Regions from separate parts of the Homo sapiens genome. Here region 1 is linked to region 2. The links come from fine-mapping of genetic effects on gene expression. A gene starts in region 2. The other region holds a variant in brackets. All regions are shown on one strand. Distances are from middle to middle.

Region 1 (8,000 bases), 40 kb before region 2:
AGAGTGAGCAGCAGCAAGATTTATTGTGAAGAGTGAGAAAACAAAGCTTCCACAGCATGGAAAGGGACCCGAGCAGGTTGCCGCTGCTGGCTCAGGTGGCCAGTTTTTATTTCCTTATTTGGCCCTGCCCATGTCCTGCTGATTGGTCCATTTTACAGAGTGCTGGTTGGTCCATTTTTACAGAGTGCTGATTGGTGCATTTACAAACCTTTAGCTAGACACAGAGCACTGATTGCTGTGTTTACAATCCTTTAGTTAGACAGAAAAGTTCTCCAAGTCCCCACCCGACCCAAAAATCCAGCTGGCTTCACCTCTCAATGTGAGTTAGTGTTCTATTCATCATATTAGTTGTTACCTAGATACTTTGTTTTTTTCATTGTGTTATTGTTTTATAGGCCCTGTGAGATTTATGCTTTAAGGAAGTTCTAATTTGGTGCACATAAAGCTTTTGTTTAAATATTTAAAACTCTTTTTAGCATTTCTGATAATGCTGGTTTAGTAGTGGCAATTTCTCTCAGCATTTGTTTGTCTGAAAAAAGACTTTATCTCTCCTTCATTTATGAAGCTTAGTTTTGCTGGATACAAAATTCTTGGCTGACAATTATTTTGTTTAAGGAAGGTAAAGATAGGACCCCAATCCCTTCTGGCTTGCAAGGTTTCTGTGAGAAATCTGCTGTTAGTCTGACAGGTTTTCCTTTATAGGTTACCTGATGTTTTTGTCACACAGTTCTTAAAATTCTTTCCTTCTTGTTGACTTCAGATAACCTAATGACTATGTGGCTAGGTGATAATCTTTTTGTAATGAATTTCCCAGAAGTTCTTTGAGCTTCTTATATTTGGGTATCTAGATCTCTAGCAAGGTCAGGGAAGCTTTCCTCAATTATTCCCTCAAACACGTTTTTCAAACTTTTAGACTTATCTTCTCCCTCAGGAATACCAATTATTCTCAAGTTTGGCTGTTTTACATAATTTTATATTTCTTGGGGACTTTGTTCATTTCTTTTGGTCTTTTTTTTTTATCTTTGTCTGATTGGGTTAATTCAAATGCCTTGTCTTTAAGCTCTGAAATTTTTTCTTCTAATTGTTCTAGTCTATTGTTGAAACTTTCCACCACATTTTGTATTCCCTAAGTATGCTTTCATTTCCAGAAGTTTTGATTAGTTTTTCTTTACGATATATACCCTCCAGAAATTTTTTCATTCATATCCTGAATTGGTTTTTTTAAATTTCTTTATGTTGGTTTTTACTTTTCTCTGGTATCTCCTTAAGTAATTAATGATCAACCTTCTGGGCCGGGCACAGTGGTTCACATCTGCAATCCCAGCATTGTGGGAGGCCGAGGCAGGCAGATCATTTCAGGCCAGGAGTTCGAGACCAGCCTGGTCAACATGGTGAAACCCCATCTCTACTAAAAATACAAAAATTAGTTGGGCATGGTGTCACATGCCTGTAATCCCAGCTATTCAGGAGGCTGAGGCAGGAGAATCACTTGGGCCCGGGAGGCAGAAGTTGCAGTGAGCCGAGATCACACCATTGCACTCTAGCCTGAGCAACAAGAGTGAAAATCTGTCCCAAAATATTATTAATAATAATAATAACAATAATAATAATAATAATAATCAACCTTCTGAATTCTTTGTCTGGTATTACAAAAATTTCATCTTGGTTTGGATTTATTGCTGGAAAGTTAGTGTGATCTTTTGGGGGTGTTACAGAACCCTGTTTTGTCATATTGCCAGAATTACTTTTCTGGTTCCTTCTCATTTGGGTAGACTATTTCTTCAAGTTATTCTTGAATTTATTTTTGATTTGACTTTTTTTTTTTTTTTGAGATGGAGTTTCGCTCTTGTTACCCAGGCTGGAGTGCAATGTCTGATCTCGGCTCACTGTGACCTCCACCTCCCCGATTCGAGTGATTCTCCTGTCTCAGCCTCCCGAGTAGCTGGGATTACAGGCATGTACCAGCACACCCGGCTAATTTTGTATTTTTAGTAGAGACAGGATTTCTCCATGTTGGTCAATCTGGTCTTGAACTCCTGACCTTAGGTGATCTGCCAGCCTCAGCTTCCCAAAATGCTGGGATTACAGGCGTGAGCCACCACGCCCAGCAACTATGTTTTTTTTTTATTTCTTTTTCTTCCCTCTTAAGGATCTGACTTTAATATTTATAGTTTATTTTAGCCTAATTTGATCCTTGGTTTTTAGGAGTGAAGACTTTTGGATTTTAGGAGTGAAGACTCTGTATGAGTTCGTTAGTTAGAGACAGTCCTTGTGTGCTGGCTTTCCCAGATCCTGGTTGTAGCAGTTACGTACTTGGTGTGTGGGAAGGTTTACTGTCTCCTACAGGGTTGGAATGGCAGGAATCTCTTTAAGCTTACCTCATTCTCTCGTGGGGTACTCTTTATTTATTTATTTAATTTTTCCCCAGTATTTTACTTACTGAGTTGATTCAGGCTTTGGACCAGTAGGGGAAGTATCCCTGGGTAGGCACCAGATGTAGCTAAAGTAGGTGGGTAGGCACCGGTTGTAGCTAAAGCAGGTGGGCAGAGATCCCAGCCTTGATGAGAGTGCCTGGGAGAGCTCTCAATTAGATGTGCTGAGGTTTTGTCAGGGTGAAGGGTAGGAGCTACCTCAGGTCCCCCACTAGGCCAGCTGGAAAGCTATCCACCTCCCAGCTTCACTCCTTTCCCAGTGTTCCAGCTATTCAGATCAGACAGGCAGTTATTTTCATCTGTAGAAATGTTGATGTTCCAAGTAGAGAGGAATTGTGACTGCCTGTCATGCAAACCTGAATCTGGGGAGTGCTCCTCCCGTGGGGATGCAATCACCCTGATTTGTTCCAGGAAGGCTGTCTATAGGTGCATCAATGCTGCGTTCCTTTGGGAGAAGCCCCAGCTCTGTCTGCAGTGGCGTACCAGGGGGAACAAGGATCCCTTCTCTAAGACCCTTCACAATACCAGAGGCTGCCTGCCTATTGGGTAGAGGTGCAAACTTTCCCCCACTCTGCCCAGCACAGCAATTGTCTCTGCAATAGGAAACTTCCCACCAGTGAAAAGATCTGGGACTCAAGCCCTGCCATTCAGATTCTTTTGTTCCACAGGGTATTCCCTTGATGTGATGTTCTTCCCCTTCCTCTAGGAATGGGACTTCCTGGAAGCCAGACTACAGTGCTCTTCTGGGTCTAGCCACCCAGTGGGCCTACCAGACTCTGGGCTGGTGCTAGGGAATGTCTGCAAGGGATCCAGTGGTGTTACCTGTCTTCAAGACTCCCAGCAGTGAATACCAGCACCATCTCTGACAGAAGTGGGAGGGGAGTGATGCAAACTCTGCAAGATTCCTTGGTTGTAGATAGACTTAGAGTATTGACTTTCTCAAATGCTGGTTATAATTATAGTGAACTTATCACGTGGACAGACGCAGGACTTCTGGTTAGCCAGGGTGTTGTAAGCAGTGGTGATAGCTGAGAATATGCAGCCGTTTTCTCCTTCCTGGGTACAGTGCTATTCTGCCTAGAGGTGAGTTTTTGCCTGTCTCACAGAGTAGGCTGCAGCCTGCCACTTCTTTCAAAAGTTCTGTGGATTCTTTCAGCTTTCCTGTTCAGTTCCTGCATTCGTTCCTGGAGAAAAAAAAATTATAGTGTGAATCTCTACACGCTATTCTGTCCTTCCAGATGGGAGAGGCATGCTAATGCTGCCTCCAATCTGTTGTCTTGGGGGGAAAGAAAGCAATTTGTTTTTGTTTTTTTTTTTAATGGATTTGCTGGGTTTAGTAACCCAGAGGTCATTGGGAACCTTGGCGAAAGTTATTTCAGTGGAGCAGTAGGAAGGAAGCCAGTTGCAGTGTCTTTGTTGAGCAGCAGAGGGGAGGTGAGGAAGTGGAGAGAGCAGCTGTGGTGGCTGAAGGGTGCTAGGACAGAGGGAGCATGATAAAGCCATAAGTAAGATGTGGTAGAAGGGAAAGAGCCAGGACAGAGGGGAGAGAAAGCAGGATCCTCAAGGACCAGAGAGGCAGTGGGTCCCACAGTCAGGTGCGGGGATTCAACAGAAACAGAAGGAGGGACGCTTCTCACTCTGACCCCGGAAAGAAGGAAGAAACTGCGTGCGAGTTCAGACAAGTCCGTTGGCGGGGGCTGGGATGCCTGCATCTTCCTTGTTAAAAAAGGAAGTGCAGGTTCAAAACATTCAGAGACAGAAGGTGGATAGACAAATCTCCACCTTCAGACTGGTAGGCTCCTCCAGAAGCCATCAGACAGGAAGATGTGAAAATCCCCAGCACTCATCCCAGAATCACTAAGTGGCACCTGTCCTGGGCCAAAGTCCCAGGACAGACCTCATTGTTCCTCTGTGGGAATACCTCCCCAGGAGGGCATCCTGGATTTCCCCCTTGCAACCCAGGTCAGAAGTTTCATCGTCAAGGTTGTTTCATCTTTTTTTTCCTGTCTAACAGCTCTGACTACCACCCAACCTTGAGGCACAGTGAAGACATCGGTGGCCACTCCAATAACAGCAGGTAGGTGACTTGTTCAGTCTGAGATGCTGGCAACATATTTCTAATGGAAGAGATCTGGAAACTTCAGCCTCCTCTGAGGCCCCTGAGAACTGGGGTGATGAAGTGTAGAAGCTTAGAGCTAAAGACAACTAAGTCTTCACCTAGACAGTGTTGCACAAAAGAATTTTCTGCAATAATAGAAATGTCCTAGACCTGCCCTGCCCAGTATGGTAGCCACTAGTCACACGTGGCCACGGAGCACTTGAAATGTGACTAGTGTGACTGCGGATCTCAATTTTTATTTCATTTTATTTTATTTTATTTTTTCTTTTTTGAGACAGGCTCTCACTCCAATGCCCAGGCTGGAGTGCTGTGGCATGATCTTGGCTCATTGCAACCTCAACCTACAGGTCTAGGTGATTCTCCCACCTCAGCCTCCCAAGTAGCTGCAGCTACAGGCATGTGCCGCTACACTCAGCTAATTTTTTGGG[T/TTTTG]TTTGTTTGTTTGTTTGTTTTGTTTTTGTTTTTGTAAAGACAGGGTTTCGTCATGTTGCCCAGGCTGATCTCAAACTCCTGGGCTCAAGCGATCCGCCCACCTCGGCCTCCCAAAGTGCTGGGATTACAGGCATGGGCCACCTTGCCTGGCCTTTATTTTAATTAATTTTAATTTAAATAGCTACACATGGCTAGTAGCTAGCATGCTGAACAGAATAGAATTAGAAGAAGCTCCCGTTTTCCAAAGGCACACAACAAGGCCCAGAAAGAATGACTTCTCCAAGCAGGATTAGAAGCCAGGTTTTTGTTTTGTTTTTGTTTGAGACAGGGTTTTGCTCTGTCGCCCAGGCTGGAATGCAATGGCACAATCTCGGCTCACTGCAACTTCTGCCTCCCGAGTTCAAGCAATTCTTATGCCTCAGCCTCTGGAGTAGCTGGGATTACAGGCGTGCGCTGCCACGCCTGGCTAATTTTTGCATTTTTAATAGAGGCGGGGTTTCACCATGTTGGCCAGGCTGTTCTGTAACTCCTGGCCTCGAGTGATCCACTCACCTCAGCCTCCCAAAGTGCTGGGATTACAGGCATGAGCCACCGCACCAGAAGCCAGTTTTTTAATTCACTCCACCCTGCATATAACCGCAGTGATCTCCATGGAAATGAAATTGACCTAAGGAGCATGAAGAAGGAGGCTGACTGGGAAATGTCAAATCTGGGCTCCCCTCTCTACATCCTTTGTATCTGACTTTCTGGGACACAGGGAGGTACCTAATGGAGCTCAGAAACTTTAGGCTGGGATCCTGCTCCTTATTACAGTGAACAGGAGATAGGATTTGAGAGCAGATTTTTAGAAGTTTTTTAAACTGAAAACCTAGTTCAGCTGTGTCACTCTAGGTATGTTGCTTAACCTCTCAGAGTCTTCATTTCCTCTTCCAGAAAGTGCCTGCTTCGTGAGGTTATCCTGAGGATTAATTGATACAAATTCTGGAAAGCACTTTGCCCAGAAGCTAGAACCTGGTAGACACTCAACATTACAGCTAATATGACAATTAATATCCAGGTCAAAGTAAATTAGATGTCATCAAAGTCAGCCTTGAAAGCAGACCCACTGCCGACTGCTTTCCCTTGACTGGGGATGTAGTGAGAGAGGCAGCATGTTATCAGTGAATAAACTATTCCAGTAATAATGATCACAACAATAAAGGTTAACATTGTACTTTATGTATGTTTTACGTGATTTACAAGCAATCCCTCATTTCATCCTCACCACAACCCCATGAGTTGGATTCTGTATTGGCCCCATTTTACAGATGAGTAAACTGAGACTCAGAAAGGAAAAGTCACTTGCCCAGAATTGCTCAGCTAGCCCTGGTGTCATCTGCCTCTCTCCATATGTAATAAGCCTCTATCTGGTTTTAGCATCAACTGGCCAGGTGGCATTGCATTCTTCCCCAGCTTGGGAAAGAGAGGTGACAAAGACTAAGAAACATTTGCTGAACAGTTGGACTCAAAGATTCTTTCTTTGGGGTAGGCAGGCAATTTAAGTGCGTCTGCCACAGGGATTGAGTCCCCTCTGGGCCCTGGGATGCATGGAGCAAGAGATAGGGTAAGGAATAATGGAGGGGATTGAGGTGTTGTTCACTGGGGTGGGCACTTGTGAGACAGCAGAATTAGTGTTCATGGCTCTGCCTGGATTAATTCATTCATTTGTAATCAATAGCAAATTGATAAAATACATTCTTAGGGTCACTTAACATTGTTTTTAAAAATGCATTTGGACTTTGGTGGAATCTTCCCTTTTACCAAAAGGCTTTCTTTCCAAATTAGAGGGTCTTGGCTCCAAGGGTGGTAAGCTGCTGCAGAGTTGGTGTCCTCAGACCCAATGCCAAGTGTGCGAAACAAGAAAGAATATCAATACCCAGAGATGGACTTGTGGTCAGAGCAGATGGTTGGGGAGTGAGGGGAAAGACAAGAGGCAGGAGTGGGGCCAAGAAGTAGAGGCATCAGGTCCAGGGAGGAACGCCACCAGACTCACCAGAAGCTTTAGTCCATCTCTGTCATTTTAATGCACTGCTCCCTTTGACATGTGAAAGACATTGAAGGCTATAGTACTGCCAATGGTATGATGGGGAAGCCTGAGGCAGCTGGAATGCCAGGAGACTCAGACAAGGCAGCTGAAGGAGCCAGCGGCTCTGAGATACAGCAAAGATGAAAGAAATCCATGCAATCCTGGGCAAGCCATTTCCTTTGGGCTTCAGTTTCCCCATCTGTAAAATGGAAAGACTAGGTAGAAAACCCCTCAGGTCCCTTCCCAATATAAACTCTACGAGTCTATGAAATGACTATGCATCCGAGAGCTGATCTGGGAACTAATTATTCAAAGTTATCAAAATCACCCGCACCCTCAGGAGCTCCACCCCTGAATTGCATTGAGCAATCTAATCTACCACTCACTTCCTCCACTGTGTTCTCACCACCACCTCCCTTTCATAGGTCACAGCTGCTCTTCTGGAGGTGTCCTACAGGTGAAAAGCCCAGCGACCCAGTAAGTCTTGGAACACCCACCCTTCCCACCAGCTAGAATGTCTCTGTTCTCTGTTTCCCTTGATACCCAGCCTACATTTATCCTAAGCATCTCTCCCCACCCTTGGTGGGCCCCTCACCCTCACCCCTTGGCCTCTTCATTTTCTCCCTTTGGGGCTCTCCATCCCCAAAGGAAGAACTTCTGTTCCTCCTCCCTCACAACCCTCTCCAACCACTCAGGGCCACTTGCTGCCCATGCTTTTCCCTTGGCCTGGCAGCCTTCCAAGACTCAGCCAGCCCTCCTGGCCTGGGCTAGGACTGGGTCTGAGGATGGGCCGAACACTGTTCGCTTCCCACTTCCCGACACTAAATGCAATATTTGTGGATTATATTTATAGAGAGAAAGAATACTGGAACTGTACTAAAATGACTCTTTTGTTGTTAAAAAGATTGCCTTAGATGTTTGAGATCTTGTAAATGTCTCTCGTTCTATAGCATTTT
Region 2 (8,524 bases):
AAGAAGGAGGAAGTTGGACTTTGAGGAAACAGTAGGAGAGGTGGAGGGAGATCAGCGGAGGGAGGAGAGGAAAAGGAGGCCCCAGTTCTCAGCCTTCTGCCCTAGATTCTCTGTGCATCCTTTGCATCCTTCTTGTCTTCTCTGCTGAATCAGGTCTATCTCTTAGGGCTCGAGTGCCTAACTCCCTCCTCACTCACCTGCCTGGAGAGTCTTAAGCAGGACAGACTGAGGAGCCTCTGTCTTTTGGCCCCGGAAGAGGATCTTAGATGATGCTCCAGATAGGATGGTGACCCTACCAGGCACGTCTTCTGCTCCAGCCTTATAGCTACTAAGCCTTCCCTGATATTCATTCCAGGCCTGACACCCCCTCCCTGAGCCTCACCACTCCCCCACACTTATCCCATTCCAAAGTCTCACTCTCCATATCTGGTCCCAGCTCCATGTTGAATCTCCCTGTTCCCAACACCTCACTGTGACCCTGACTCTCACTCTCCCTCCTTGTAGATCTCTACCGATTCCTGGCATTCATCCTTCTCTGACCTCATCCCAAGCTGCCACCCCATCCCTGCCCCCATCCCAGCTTTGATTTCAACATCAATCACTGATCCCCATCTGAAGCTTGATCTAGGTCCTGTCTCTGAGCCTCACCCTATTCCCAACCTCAAGCCTTCCCTGATCCTTCCCCACACAGGCTAAACCCACACTCTCAGTTTTGCTTAAGCTAGTTTGACTTCTCTTTCTATCATTTGCCATCAGAAGAGCCCTGACATCTTAAGTCCTCACTTGGGACATTTTTACACAGATAAACATCTAATGAAGCTAAACCACAAAGGCAAACTTAATAAGTGGACAGACGGAGGCTGAAAGCGGAGAGGACAGACAAGAGGAGCTTTGAGCAGATGGTGTGCAAAAGAGTGGTCTTTTCAGCATGCATTCATTCCTGTGATCATTATTTATTGAGCATTTAGTAGGCTCCAGGCACCAAGGACATACAGTGAATAAACCGACAGGGCCCTGTCTCCAAGGAGGGAAAACAGACTAGGAAAAAACTGCAACTCATGGAAAGCATTTGGGGAGGGACTGGTGAGCTCACATAGCTTGAGGCAGGGCTATGCCTAGGCAAGGCCTAACCCAGAAGATGATGCTCACCTCAGGGTGAAGCTGAGACTCCCTGGAGGAGCATTTCCTTTTACTTGTGGACAAAGGGATCTTCCTTGGCCAGGGGTATGGGCATGAACAGGAGTTTCTGTGCCTCAAGAGACTGTTCTAGCAGGAGTTAAAGCCCCAGGGAACACTGCCCTTCAACCCAGAGAGGTGCCTTCTTAGGAGGTGCTGCCCCCATTCTACTGCAGGAACAGCCAACAATGCTGCACACACCCTTGACTCTGTCACAACCAAGATACTTCCACAGGGACAAGCACGGAACAGAAGCTTTATTAGGAACATCTGCCTGCCCAATGGACTGGTGGCTGCACATGGCTTTCTAGGGATGCTGATGCTGCACGCCAGCCTGGAAGCTGCAGAGGGGAAGGGCTAAGGGCTGCTTGTCTCGTTCCACTTGGGGCTCAGCAGGTGGCCAGCACATGTGTCTGCGATGTTGGTCATGGGGGTAAAGGGGGTTCTTGTGGCATAGATCTGGCTTCCAAACCCTCTTTCTCTTTGTTCATCCACCACCCCCAAGGGGAACATGTGTTTCCAGCTCCTCACAAGGCCAGCTGGCAGGTTGATGTTTTGGCAGTGCCTGCCTCAATGTCTCCAGCAGACACTGCAACACACCTGAGATGGGAAAACCACCCCCCTGAGCTCGGATCAGAGCACACAGAGCCACCAGCTTGGTGGCTCAACGCTTAACACTCAGAGTTGAGGAGATGCTCCTGTGAGGGTCAACGAGAGCATCCAGCCCTCATGAGGACACAGCTTCAGCCCTGTTCTCTCATCTAATGTCAGATTCGGGGCTCAGATGTGGCCATGCTAATTAGCCAGTTAGTGGGTTAAAGATGTGACGTTCAACGGGAATGATGGTGCTTCGTTTCCATGGAGGTGCAAAGGCCGGTCCTTGGAGGTACCTCAACAGCTCCTCAGAAGGTTGGTGTGGCCCCTGAAGACACCAGTTCCTAACTTCCCCACATCCTATAGCGTCCCCCCAAAACCCAGATAGTGCCTGTCCAGAGCCAGATCACCTTCCACACACAACCTCAGGGTGTTGGTTATTCTTTCCTTCTGAGAAGAGATATTCCTTCATCGATGGTTTTCAGAGGTTGGAAGAGACATTGACAGACGAAGAAGTGTAGGAGGTAACACGATGACGTGCCAAGAACTCCTTGCTGACCAGGCCATGCATAGCCAGGATCTTGAGGAATCCATGGCGAAAATTTTGGCCGATGAAGGCGTAGATGATGGGGTTGAGGCAGCTATGGAGAAATCCCAGAATCTCAGTGGCATCCAGGGCCCGGCCGATGTTGTTGCGGCGCTCACAGCTCTCCTGGATCACCTGGGTCCTCATGAGGGTGTCTGCCAGCAGGACCAGGTTGTAGGGCAGCCAGCAAAGCAGGAAGATGAGGACGACAGCAAAGATGACCCTCATGGCTCGGTGCTTCTGCCCCATGTGGGCCTTAAACAGTGTACGCAGGGTGAATCCATAGCAGAACAGCATGACAAACAGCGGCACGATGAAGCCAAAGGTGTGAGGCAGGATCCGCAACACCATCCGCCATTTTGCTGTGTCATTTCCCAGGACCTCATAGCAAACTGGACTGGAATTGTTTGGATGGTAAGCCTGGCGGAAAAGGAAGAAGGGCAGGGACAGATTCATAGACAGTCCCCAGCAGCCAAGACAAACAAACTTGACCAAGTGACGCTTCTGGGTCAGTGTGCGTGTGGCATGGACAATGGCCAGGTAACGGTCCACACTGATGCAGGCCAACAGCAGGATGCCACTGTAGAAGTTGACTTCCTTCAGGAGTGAGACCACCTTGCACAGGAATGTGCCAAAAATCCAGCCATTCACCTTGGAGGCGGCCCAGATGGGCAAGGTCAGGGCAAAGAGTAGGTCGGCCAAGGCCAGGTTCAGCAGGTAGACATCAGTGACGGAGCGGCCGACCCTGCTGTATAAGATGACCAGCATCACCAGGGAGTTTCCCAGCAGGCTCAGCAGGAACACTAGGGCATAGGCGATGATCACAACATACTTGTTGAGTGTCTCAGTTTCTAGCATACAGGGGCTGTAATCTTCATCTGCAGGTGGCATGCCAGTGAAATTTAGATCATCAAAATCCCACATCTGTGGATCTGTAATATTTGACATGTCCTCTTCAGTTTCAGCAATGGTTTGATCTAACTGGAAGGTTAGAAGGAAGGAAATGTGATTTAGTAGCTCGGATTCAAGGCATTCTCATCAATGATGTGAGAGCAGTTACTGGGATATCCTTGGCTTCCCTGTTGGTTTGGCAATGAGAGCTCTCCTTCCTCCTTTGACTCCAACCTGGTCTTCTTCGGAGGTTGGCTTCCCAGTGTTCTCCACCTTCCACAACTCTAAGGCCTGGCCTGAGTGTGGGGTAAGATGGAATATGGGGAAAACACCTTAGCCCTAGCTCAACCTACAACTGCCTCCTCTCAGCCTATGTCTCTACCTCTGTCCCTCTTTAGCCTTCTCCATCCTCAGCTGTGTCTGTGCATTTGGATGTGGGGACCAGGTTGGTCTTAGACATTCAGGGAAGGGCCAGCATTAAGCAAAATGCAAGAAGGCAAACCTGTTCCCAGGTGTCCCCTTCTACTATTTCTATTCCTATGTTCTCCCTGATTCTTGTTTACCCTCCTTAAAATCTACTGGGGGAAGGAAGTGATAACAACACATTGCATTAAACTGTATATTTTAAGCCTTCTTTAAATGAGGAGCACATATTTTGTTCCTCTGTCTAAAGGAGTTTTAAGTATTTGAGAAGATAAAGTCTCCATCTTGGTCCCTGAAACCCTCCACCCCTGAAAAAATCCACAGAATCATTCAAGAGTTTTCAAATATATTTCCTATTGTGAAATAGTTTACTGAAATAAGATCTTCCCAGAAGCCCAGTATGTGAAGCAGATAAAAGCTGAGCCACTGTGGGGCAGAGTGTGCTAATCTCCGAACCCAGATGGCCCCTAAAGAGCCCCTCAAAGCTCCAGGACTCTCCAGAGAAGTCTGAAAGCCTTTGGAAAGTCACCGAGGTTGGTTGTAAAGACACCTAGCATCCAGTCTTCATTCCATCCTGATTCTACCATTAATAAGTTTCGTGTGTAATCCCAGCCCTTTGGGAGGCCAAGGCAGGCAGATCATGAAGTCAGGAGTTCGAGACCAGCCTGACCAAAATGATGAAACCCCGTCTCTACTAAAAATACAAAAAAATTAGCTGGGTGTGGTGGCGTGCACCTGTAATCCCAACTACTCAGGAGGCTGAGGCAGGAGAATCACTTGAACCCGGGAAATGGAGGTTGCAGTGAGCCGAGATCGTGCCACAGTACTACAGCCTAGGCGACAGAGTGAGACTCCATCTCAAAATAAATAAATAAATAAATAAATAAGTCTCATGACCTTGAGTGGGGTCTCGTACCCCTATAGATTTCAGTCTTCTCATCTGCAAATCGAGGAAGACAGAATCATCCACCTCTCATTTGCTGCCAGGCCTGAGGGTGTATGATGAGTCCACTCAGATCCACACATTTTAGTGTGTTCCCTCCCTACCAGTATTTGCATTTTCACTGAAGACAAAGTCTTAAGGTGAAGCAATAAACATCAAATTGGGGAATGGTCAGCCTCTTCCCACAAAAGGGCAAGGTATAAAAAGAGGGGATGAGGAGGCTGTCCTCTTCACCTGCTAACTCCATGTATGAGTGGTGGTCACAAGAGAGGAAGCGGGCAGCAGAAATCCTCAGCTCCCACAGAAATGAATACATTTTCCAAAATAAAGTCAAGCCAAGCAGCCCTACCCCACAGAAAGTCCTAGCAAACAGAGGTGGCTTCCTACCTGAAGCACCGGCCAGGTGTGTCCAACAGTAGGAGCTGCAGTCAGAGATCAGAGTGACTTAACAGCTAGAGGGCACTTGATGAATAAACGGAAATAAGGAAACCACATCAGATGACACCTCCCTTCTGAGCCCCACCCATGTCTACATTTGGGGAAGAACAGTTTAAGTCAAGGGATCACAGACTTGTGATTAGAGACTGCCAGGGTCCATATGACCAAGTGGGGGTCCCAGGTGTGAAGCTGGGGTTGAGGGTCCATTATCTGAATTCTCCACTCTATGGATGATCATTTTTATTATTTTCCTTTTCTTGAATTTATTTCCATTTGTTTATTCCTAAATTCCCTAGTATATCACCTGTGGAAGCTTGCAACTTCCTGACCAAGTATAAAGGGCGAAGGATTTGACTTACAGCAGAGACTTCAGAAGGAGTCCCCCATAGGAGGGACTTGGGGGCAATCCAGTGGGAAAGAGGAGGAGGACTGCGCTTGAGTTGTGTTTGAACAGCAGGCACTCAATCTCTACTTATTTTGCAGGCTTCTTTGAGGTGGCCTAGCTCGGATTCAAGGCATTCTCATCAAGGATGTGAGAGCAGTTACTGGGATATCCTTGGCTTCCCTGTTGGTTTGCCAACGAGAGCTCCCCTTCCTCCTTTGCCTCCAACCTGGTCTTCTTTGGAGGTTGGCTTCCCAGTGTTCTCCACCTTCCACAACTCCAAGGCCTGGCCTCAATCTCTACTTATTTTTCAGGCTTTTTGAGGGTATTTGAATGGAACACAAACCCTCCTTTGCCGCCAGCCACTCTTTCGCACAATCACTGCCAATGACCAGTTGGTTTAAATGGCCCTGAGGCTGACGGCATAGGCCACTCCCAGAGTCTGGCTGGTTAGCAGAGAGACCACAGAGCTGGGGCAGTCCATGAATGGAAGAGCTGTGGTCAAGGTCACTGCAGCCCCCATCTCAGTAACGGAGAATGGCTTCTCTGGGAACCCACCTTAGCTGCCTCCAGCAGCTAATGGCTGTCCCCTAGCTTGAGTCTTCTGGCACCTTCGTCACTTCTCCATATAACATGAACCCTGCTGTGAGGCATTTACAAGTCAGCCCTCTTCTAGCTTGGGAGCCATGAGACAGCAAGAACCTTCTTCAATTCATGTTTATGTTCTCTTTCAGGGAATATAGTAGGTGCTCAATCAATGGTTGTGGAATAAATGAAGGGAGACATTTCTCCTGTGATTCATGGACCATAAGTCACCACCACGATTCAGTGTCTATTGCTTTTGGCTACACACTAAAGTCACTGGTATGCCTGATAGCTTCACTTCCACACAGCCCAGTTGGTCTGCCTGGCATTGCTTCTTTCCAACCTTCCTCTAATGTTTGGAGCTAATGCCAGTCTGTGCAAGTATAAATCCTGCCCTACCACAAATGCCAAATTTACCATGCCATGGATTCCTACAGTTCTGCACTGGAAAGAATTTTTTTCTTTTTTTAAGAGACAGGCTCTCACTGTGTTGCCAAGGCTAGAATGCAGTGGTGTGATCATAGCTCAGTGTAACCTCAAATGCCTGGGCTCAAGCAATCCTCCCACCTCAACCTCCTGAATAGCTGGGACTACAGGCAAGAGCCACTACATCTGGCTTTCTTTTTTTATATTATATTTTTATTTTTATTTTTTATTTAGTTATTTATTTATTTGTAGAGAAAGGGTCCTGATATACTGCCCAGGCTTATCTTGAACTCCTAGCCTCTAGTGATCCTCCTGCCTTTGCCTCCCAAAGCACTGGGATTACAGGCATAAGCCACCATGCCCAGCCGGCAAGCCTATTTTTTAAGCTAAGTTGTGCTTTCCTCCTGGGCTCTTTTATCATTCATAGATGGTAACAGGAAGTGTAAGGGGACAATAGCCACTCATGCTTTGCTTTTACTGATGTTGGACTATTGTGCTCTAACGCCTAGACTAGAAAGGAGTCAAAGATGGGGTAGTCCCAGGAGGTGGGAGACTCCCTCTATTAATCATCTAGGGAAAATCAGCCCCAAGGGCAGAAAATAGTCACTGGGGACACAGGAGAAAAAAGACGGGGGCCTAGACTGCAAAACACCTGCCTATACTCAAGAAAGACCCTGAGGCCGGGAGAAGGATAGTTTTTGCCACAAGGGGGCAGCAGTTGCTAGACAGGGAATCCCCTGTGAGACACCCCCTTGAGAAAGACCAGGGCCAAGAGCAGGTATATTTAACACCGTATGTTAAGTTCTTCTTGGTGTATAGTTCCCTTCTGCTTTTCCTAAACCCTCAGTAAGTCGGTTCACTATTCCAGTCTATTTCAAGGAATCACTGAGGGGTTAGGGAAGAGGCTGGTCTCCTGGAGCCCGAGGAGTGAAGGGGAGCAGCCCTGCTGCATGAGTGTGGTGAGGGCAACAGCAATGCTGGGGTCTCCAGGAGAAGTTGCATCTGGAGGACAAGGGTGGAAAGAACCTTTCACTTCGCAGTAGGACGAGCATTTCACTGAAGGAGGGAGAAAGCACATATAGATGAGTTTAGAATAAAATTTTACCCACTTCAAAATGTTCCAGCAAGTCAGCCCACCCAACCTATCTTCTATACCTCACTTCCCACTTATAACTGTGCCCTCTTAAAATGGCCTAGAATGTTCCTGCTGAGAAGCATTTTTCCATTCCATGTAGAGCTCCTAATGCCACAAAGAAAGCTGTGACAGGTGCAGCCCGAATGCCAGTCAACTGGCAAAATGTAGTATCTCTTTGGGTGACATCTTCTTACCACTCTGTTTTAAACATGATGACTTCTGCACAGACCATGTGAACAGCACAATGTGGCTGTAAGAACATCTATTTTGTCCCTGCATCAGCCTTATGCCAGCTTCAGCATCTCTTCTCATTCCTCCAGAAGAATCCACTTGGATCTGGGATCAAAGTAGAGGAAAGGGGTAGAGGGAGGTTTCTCCTCTCTCCCCAGTGACGTCCTCGTAACCACAGCAACAGGCTCAGGGAGTGAGTCTGTGACCCAAGATGATCCAGTCAGAGCAAAGTTCAGATGTTTGCTCAATGAATGTGGAAAAGCAAGTATATAGTCTTGTTGCAGTCAGCAGCCATTTTGCTACCATAAATGGCAAAAACAGTCCAAGGAAAAAACCAACACACAGAAGAAGGCAGAGTTGAGAGAATCAGAGAAACAGACCAAGAGTCCTGAACAAACCATGCCCAGAGGCCATCTTCTCTCTGTACTTTCTTCGGTTCCATGAGCCAATAAATTGTCTTTATTGTTAAGACCAGTTTAAGTTGACTTTTCTGTTACCAGCAACCAAAACATGCCCAACTGTGAGAGTTCTGGAAACCAAATGTGGTCTAGGATGAGAGGAGCAGGGAGTAGTGTCAGTGAGACACTGGGTCAAGGCTGCAGTGGTAAAGATACAGGGGCATTGACAGACACGTGACCTAGCCAGGTGCAGACCTCCCAGCCCTGATCTCCAGTCTCCAGAGGAAGCCAGAGAAGGACCTTGAAAAGTGAGCAT

The links. PIP is the estimated chance that this variant, and not a neighbour inherited with it, causes the effect.
Region 1: its variant is fine-mapped to the expression of CXCR1 in whole blood (INTERVAL, PIP above 0.99).

What each region holds. Positions count from the first base shown.
Region 1 is chr2:218,121,845-218,129,844 of GRCh38, forward strand. It overlaps CXCR2 (C-X-C motif chemokine receptor 2), which reads left to right and starts at 4,184. Exons shown (of 3, transcript NM_001557.4): 1 at 4,184-4,509; 2 at 7,470-7,521. The variant T/TTTTG (reference allele first, on the strand shown) is at 4,980.
Region 2 is chr2:218,161,908-218,170,431 of GRCh38, forward strand. It overlaps CXCR1 (C-X-C motif chemokine receptor 1), which reads right to left and starts at 5,055. Exons shown (of 2, transcript NM_000634.3): 1 at 5,001-5,055; 2 at 934-3,337. The coding sequence starts at 3,304. The coding sequence ends at 2,252.